Linked DNA regions of Homo sapiens. The protein of the gene in region 2 purifies or fractionates together with the protein of the main gene of each other region. This does not show direct contact. Each region holds a gene or a part of one and is shown on either strand. Other genes may lie near its edges. The genes, in order: PCNX3 and TM2D1.

Evidence for each region.
Region 1: the proteins of TM2D1 (region 2) and PCNX3 purify together in Homo sapiens (affinity purification with mass spectrometry; one large-scale study listed by BioGRID and IntAct). This does not show direct contact.

Annotation. Positions count from the first base shown.
Region 1 is NC_000011.10:65,618,671-65,622,487, reverse strand, and holds part of PCNX3 (pecanex-like protein 3), read right to left. Parts: coding exon 3,421-3,817; intron 2,952-3,420; coding exon 2,828-2,951; intron 2,735-2,827; coding exon 2,556-2,734; intron 2,150-2,555; coding exon 2,059-2,149; intron 1,658-2,058; coding exon 1,522-1,657; intron 283-1,521; coding exon of another isoform or gene 244-282; coding exon 122-243; intron 1-121.
Region 2 is NC_000001.11:61,683,769-61,687,383, forward strand, and holds part of TM2D1 (TM2 domain-containing protein 1 precursor), read right to left. Parts: intron 3,154-3,615; coding exon of another isoform or gene 3,024-3,153; intron 1-3,023. UniProt on the Homo sapiens protein: May participate in amyloid-beta-induced apoptosis via its interaction with beta-APP42.

The DNA.
Region 1 (3,817 bases), on a different chromosome or scaffold from region 2:
CCCTCAGCTTCCCCCGAGTCAGGCTCTCTGCTGCCATGACTGCCTCCACAGGTACAGAGTCTGGGGAGCCAAGGTCCAGGGGCTTTCCAAGAATTGGGGGCCAAGGCTGCGGGACACTCACCGGTCCAGCAGAGCCAGCAGGGCAAGCCGCTCATAGCGCACAGAGGTCCAGCGGCCAGGGAGAAGCCAGTACTTGTAACTATGCTGGGCCCGGGGTGGCGCTTCTTCCATCAGTGTCTGCTCCTGGGATTCGTGCAGGGAGTCCTGGTCCAGCAGGTCAAACTGCAGTCCCCACAGCCGCGGCCGTCAGCCCCGCCACCCCCCACATGGTCTACTGTTACCCCCCTTCAGCACACCGGTCTGGTTGACCATTTCCATCAGCACATAAAGGCCCCTGTCTAGCGGCCCTGGACCCCACCAGAACCCTTCATCTGAAAGGGCTCCTCCTCTCTCCAGGTTCCCAGGACGTCGCCCAGTGGCTGCAGGGGCTGCCTAGAGTCACCCGCTCCCACGCCTGTCTTCCCCAGTCAGGCAAACTCTCCCACCTCTTCTGAAGCTCAAGGAAGTCCACTTGTCCTTTGGGACCTGGCACAAATGCTACCCTCCTCCCAGACAGGGCCTGTCACTGTCACTCTGACTACCCCATCCGAGCGTGCATGCAGGGCTCAGCCTTGAGGACATGCCTAGGTGCCAATGCCAGCCCTGAGGCCCTGGGCACATGACTTGACCTCTCATTTGTTGTATCCTTCACTCAACAAGCACTTGTGGGGCCCCAGCTATGGGCCCGGCCCTGCCCTGGGATCCAAGGATAAAATGGCGAGCCAGAGGCACGCAACCCTTCCCTCTGGAGGCGGCCGCCGGCCACGCTTCCACCCCACATGGTTACAAGGAAGAAATGAACCAGAAGCGGGCAGGTGGGAGCTTCTGGGGGCTGCCCAACCTATCTGTGGCCTTGAGGGTCAGGTGCCGGGTACCCTTTTATGATCATTCTTTAAGCTCTAAGATGGCGTTTCACGCATTTTTAGCGCTTCTGGTGTTAATAGATTAAGTATACAAATTTACTGTCCAAACTGTGATATTCTTAAGAGTGACAGAGCGCTGGTAATGAGTATACTGAGACAGGAAGTGTTAACAGAGAGCACCCCAGCAGCCACACGTGCACAGTGTATGCAGGGCAGCACAGTCATCACAGGGTCCCTGCTTGCTAACAGAACACTGCCACTTCCGCAAGTATCATCATTAACACCCATGGCCCCTGTTCACTGTGGGACCCTCCAGAGTTAGGAATGTACTCCAAAGGAATTCGTAGTAAGCAAATAAATGACTTCTCCAGCCATTCAGACCCAGAGTCTCTGCCAACATCAAAGATCAGGACAGACACAGTAGGGCCCCTGGAGCGCTCACTCAGCACTGCCCGTCCCTCCTGGGGCACCTGGGCAAGCTCTCTATGCAGGCCGGACTCAGTGATCTGCCCGCCCCGTCACGCCCCACTGGCACGGCCCTTCCCCGGCTGCTCCTCACCTCCGGGATCTCCAGGGGCACCCGGCGCACCTGCATGCCCTGCAGAACCACAGGCCTCGGCTGCAGCAGGTTCAGGCCGCCTGTAGCCTCAGGGACATCAGCCGAGTGGAAGCTGGAGGAATGCGAGTGTCGGTCCCTGTGAGAACAGCAGCCATCAGGATCCCCCCACGGGCGAGCCCTGGGGCTGGGTGGGGTCGAGGCCGAGGCCAAGGCCAGGCAGGTAGGGCTGTCTGTGCCGAGACCAACCAGGGCTCAAGGGACAAGTGCTGGGGTCAGGTGGCAGAAGTGCCTCCCTCCCAGACCCTGGCACGAGTGTCGAGGCTGTGCCCTGGGCTTCCTAGAAACTTCCTGCCCGGAGTGTCATGGAGCCAGGGACCCCAGGAGGTCTGTCCTTTGCTGCTCCCCATCCTCTCCCTGCAGATCTGAGCTGCCCCTGCCCAAGCCCAGCAGGAAGAGAGCAAACTCCAGGCTCAGGGAACTTCCCAGAGATGCAGGCCACCAAGACAATGGCTTGGGAGGCCAGGCTTGGGAACTCACCAGGCTCCATTAGCTGTCTGCTCCCCTTGCTGCCCTACAGGGTTCTCGTAGCCGCCTCCAGCCAGGCCAAAGGTGTAGGAACGCCGCACACCTGGGGCAGGGTATGGGAGATGAGGCAGCGTGGCAGAGACAGAAGCACCAAGGCCCGGCTCACGTGGGCACCAGACCCATCAAATGAGGCAGAACCTTGTGCTGTGTCCTCTGAGAGGGCAGCCCAGCCTCTGGAGAGGAAAGGGCCTACAGGTCAAGAGCCTGGGCGCGGCAGTCACCTGTCCTAGCTTTAGATCTCCCCTGTACTGTAAGCTGAGCCTCTGTTTCCTCATCAGCAGAGCAAAAGATGACAGAGACACCGTGCCTCAAAGAGGCTGCAAGGATGATGTCTGGCAGCATTAGCAGTGTACCTGCCACAGGGCCGAGCGAGCACCACTGCTAGGAGGACTCAGGCTGTTGGGGGAAGGCGGGGAGGCACTGGGCCACCGGGCTTGGGAAAGGCTCACCGCTCTCATCGTAGAAATAGTGCACAGCACCCTCAGAAGTGTCATCAAAGGTGCAGGCCTCATGCACATTGGCACCGGCCCGGGTGAGCAACAGTGAAGAGGCGAAATGCAGCGCAGAGGGCAGCGTCAGCGCCCGGGAGTGGGAGGCAGCCCGGCCCCGCTGAGCTTCCTGCAGGCTGCTGGAGAGGGTCAGCCCCAGGTCAGCGCCAGCTAGAGCTTGCGGGCCCTCCCCGGCCCCCGGTGCCCCTCGGCACAGCTGGCAAGGTGCTCACCTGGGCGGCGAGCCCATGACAGAGGCTGGAGGGGTGGGGTTGCTGCCTGCATTGTGGCGTCTCCGAATGGCCTGGGTCCGCCTCACACTGCTTGAGCGGTCCCGCCTGCCAGTCTCCTCGGCCGCTGCCCAGAGAGAGGCCCCCAAGTGTAAGTGACAGATGCTCAGACAAGGCTGGGGGAGTAAGGTTGGGGACGGTGTTCCGCCAGGGAGCTAAAGGCCTAGTACAACCACGCCCCGGCTCTGAGGCCCAGCCAGGTCACACAGCCCCATGCTCAGTTTCCTTACTTGCAAACAAGGATGACACTGATCGGCCCTGCCCCACCCCACTGGTGGTGGGAGGATGAGTGTGGATGATGAGAGTCCTCAGGGGACAGAGACTCAGGTGCTAATCAAGGATGTGGAGCCAGGTGGCTGAGCCCCATGTCTAAGAGGTTTGGCAGACAATGTCAATCACCACCAGGCCCACGTCCATCTGCTGCCTACAACCGAGGCTGAGCTGACACTGACCAGGTCCATTCTTACCTGCCCTTTGCCCAACCCCAAGCCCGTAGCTCACGTCCCCCAGCCCCTGCCTCTAGAGCAAGCACTCACCTCCCCCCACAGCACCTTCCTCCTGCAGCTCCCCCCGCCAGCCGGGCTGGTTGGCAGCGGGTCCCCTTCGCGCCTCAGCAGGCAGCACAACAGGCTCACTAGCAGCCTGCTCCACCCCAACCTGGGCCTCCAGCTCTGCCTTGCAGCCAGCCAGTGGGGGCCTCAGAACATCACCCCCAGCCCCATCCATGCTCAGCACACGGGCATGTGTTTTAGCGCTGGCGGTACTAGGCGTCCGCTGGGTCCCATATGGCCGCTTGGGGGGCACAGCAGTTCCCTCCTCAGCCCCATGGGGGGCCCTCCGCTTCCGGGGTCCCCCTGCTGCACCCCGGGAGCTCTCAGGGGAGTAGCAGGAAGTAGAAGAGGAGCTGTCAGTACTGTAGCGGCGCTGCGATCG
Region 2 (3,615 bases):
CTGAATTCTGTGCTCCCTGAGGCCCTTGGCTTCCCTGCCTCCTTGCTTAGCTCTGCTTGTCTTCATTCTGCAGAGTGGCACTCTAACTAATTGCCAACAGCTCTAGAGTCACATATTCCCAGCTCAGCAGCTCCTAATACAAAGAAAGTAAACTTTTCTTCCCCAATGTTTATATACCAATTCCAGGGAAAGACTTTTATCGATCTGCTTGGTTTTTATGCGTACTGTGGACAAACTACTATATCCATGGGAATAGATTTAATATGATTGGCCAGGCCAGGCTGCCTGTAGGAGATGAGGTTGTATCATTGACAGTCCTGCCAGAACCACCTGGAATGGAAAAGGAAGAGGTAGAAAAAAACAACACATGTTCGCTACAATCATCTTGTCCACTTAATCACATATGTGACAATCTAGTTAACATAATCTCTATAAATTACCCTCTAAGGTAGCAATCTTCAAACTGTAGCATTAAAGGTGGACAAAGATTTACCAAGGTGTATGTGGGCCCAGAGGAGAAATCAATCCTGAGAGCTTAATTCCCTAAATACTCTTTGTAAAACAAATTTGCCTGATACCATGCTACACTGGAAGCATCCTACCAGTTTCCCTTCCCACTTCTCCTCACTGTGGTCATTTCTCCCACTTGTTAACAGTAAAGCATACCTACCATCCAGGATACCCCGAGTCTTATGATGGCATATTTCCCTGAGGTGTGAAAGCCTCTGAAGTGCCAAACAAAGGGATAGCTCAAAATATTGGATTTAGGGAACTATCCTTTACTCAAAGGTCCAAAAATACATTCTACCGTATCTGTTCCAAAGATGCATTTCCAATAACATTTTACATCTTTTTGTTTAAAAATAATTTGCAACATGTTTATGCTGTTTTGATCAACTGTGTATCATTATTATAACAAGTTGATCCAAACAAAAAATCACAGAAAATTTTTAAATATTTTAATTTTAATGAATAAGATGATTCGCTAGAAGTTTTCTCTCTTTCATTTGTTTGTTTGTTTGTTTTTTGATATAGGGTCTCACTCTGTCATCCAGGCTGGAGTGCAATGGCATGATCTTGGCTCACTGCAACCTCCCCCCCGGGGCTCTAGCGATCCTCCCACCTCAGCCTCCCAAGTAGCTGGGACCACAGGTGGGCGCCATCACGCCCAGCTAATTTTGTTTTTGTATTTTTTTGTAGAGACAGGATTTCACTATGTTGAACAGGCTGGTCTCAAACTCCTAGTACTAGGATGATGGTTAAGAACATCAATTGATCTGCCTGCTTCGGCCTCCCAAAGAGCTGGAATTACAGGCGTGAGCCAATGTGCCCAGCCTAGTAGGAAGTTTTTAAACCTAAAAATATATTATATTAGGATAAAATTCTGTAGAAGAGGAATAAAAATAAAAATTCAAGGAAGAAGCAATGTAAAAATTATAATGGTTAGTGAAGAGTTCATGCACATCTTTTTTAAGTAGGTGATATTTAAAATCCTACGATATTTATATTCTGTTGGATACATTTCAAAATTGATGTAACACTTTTATTTAAATATGTAAATATTTGCAAACTAGAAGTTATATCCTTTGCAACTATTTAAACTTATGATAGAAAACTTAAATGTCAATTTAAAAATATGTGGAGAGTATGGACTTTGTTTTTGAAATTGAAGGACATTGCTATAAAGCATTCCTCATTTTAAAAATAAATTTGATCTTAAAACTATTCAACAAATACTTAATTCCTGTGATATTCCAGGTTCTATGCTAGACATTATACACTAACAGTGAATAAAATACCATCTCTGCCAACAGGGAACTTATTCCAGTGAACTACACATGTTAATATTCAAGTAGTACTTACAAAGCACATGTGTGCCACACACCATGTCAGGTGCTGTTATGCACATTGACTTACTTGTCAAAGATTAAATTGATTTGGCTTGACACTTATTTATGAGTTTACATAAAAATTAACTGTAATCCCACACTTTGGGAGGCCAAGGCAGGAAGACTGCTTGAAGCCAGAAGTTTGAGACCAGCATGGGCAAAAAAGCAAGAACTTTGCCTCTACCAAAAAAAATGAAAATAAAATATTAGCCAGGTGCCATGGTGTGCGCTTGTAGTCTCAGCTACTCGAGAGGCTGAGGTAGGAGGATTGCTTGAGCCCAGGAGTTCAAGGTTGCAGTGAGCTATGATCACACCACTGCGCTCCAGCCTGGGTGACAAAATGCAACCCTATTTAAATAACCAAATTAAGTCGGTGTGGTAAAGCACTAAACTGAAAGGAAAACTTGGAAGAGAAAGCTGTCTCTTTCTATAACTAGCTGTAGAATCAAATAATTTATTCCTTACTGGATCTCAATTTTTCTTATTGATTATAATGAAGAATAGAATAAGCTGATCTGTACAGTATTTTTAAAGTTTTAATGTCTTCTATAAGATTTAGATACAAACACCTCAGCTTAAGCCACTACAAAGTATCATCAACACACTTTTCTATGAACTATCTGGTCACAGAAGAAACTGTTTTATTTACTTTTTAAAAAAAAAAGATCAGCTATAAAGATGTCAACTATTTAGATCCACATTCCTTTGCCAAATTAAGACAGGGTGTGGTGGCTCATGCCTGTAATCCCAGCACTTTGGGAGGCCAAGGTGGGAGGATTGCTTGAGGCCAGGAGTTCGAGACCAGTCTGGCCAACATGGCAAAACCCAGTATCTACAAAAAAAAAAAATACAAGAATTAGTCAGGCACGGTGGTGCACACCTGTAATCCCAGCTACTACTAGGGAGGCTGAGGCATGAGAATTGCTTGAACCAAGGAGGCAGAGTTGCAGTGAGCTGAGATTGTACCACTCCACTCCAACCTGGGAAACAGAGTGAGGCTCTATCTCAAAGAAAAAATAAATAAATAATAAAACCTGTTTTAAGCACCCACATACACATATATAATAAATGTGCCAATTCTAACATCTGTCATTATGAGTATATGATTGTATTATTAATTATAAAATTACAAACCTTTTAAAATATCCCATACTGGATGGGAGGCTGAGGCAGGAAGATTGTTTGAACCCAGGAATTCGAGGCTGCAATGAGTTATGATCACGCCACTGCACTCCAGCCTGGGCAACAGAGCAAGACCCTGTCTCTAAAAAAAGAAAGTAAATTACCCCAATACTGGGAATTTTTTTCCTCAGTAAATATGACCATGTCCATTTGTCCATAGGCAACAGAGTATGGAACCCAAAATTATGAGTTTATTTCTCTGCTAAGAAATATCCTGAAGCTGGCTGGGCACAGTGTCTCATGTCTGTAATCCCAGCACTTAGGGAGGCCGAGGCAGGATAGCTTGAGCCCAGGAGTTTGAGACCAGCCTAGGGAACAAAGTGAGATCCTGTCTCTATTTGTAAAAACAAAAATTTAGAACAGGCAAATTAAAAAAGACAAAAAGTATATTAGAGGTTACCAGAAGGTGGGAAGAGAAGGGGAAGGAAGCTATTACTTAAGGGGTACGGTATTTTTGGAGTGATGAAAAAGTTTTAGAAATAGATAGTGGTGACAGTTGTAAAATATTCTGAACACAATTAATGCCACTAACTGTACACTTAAA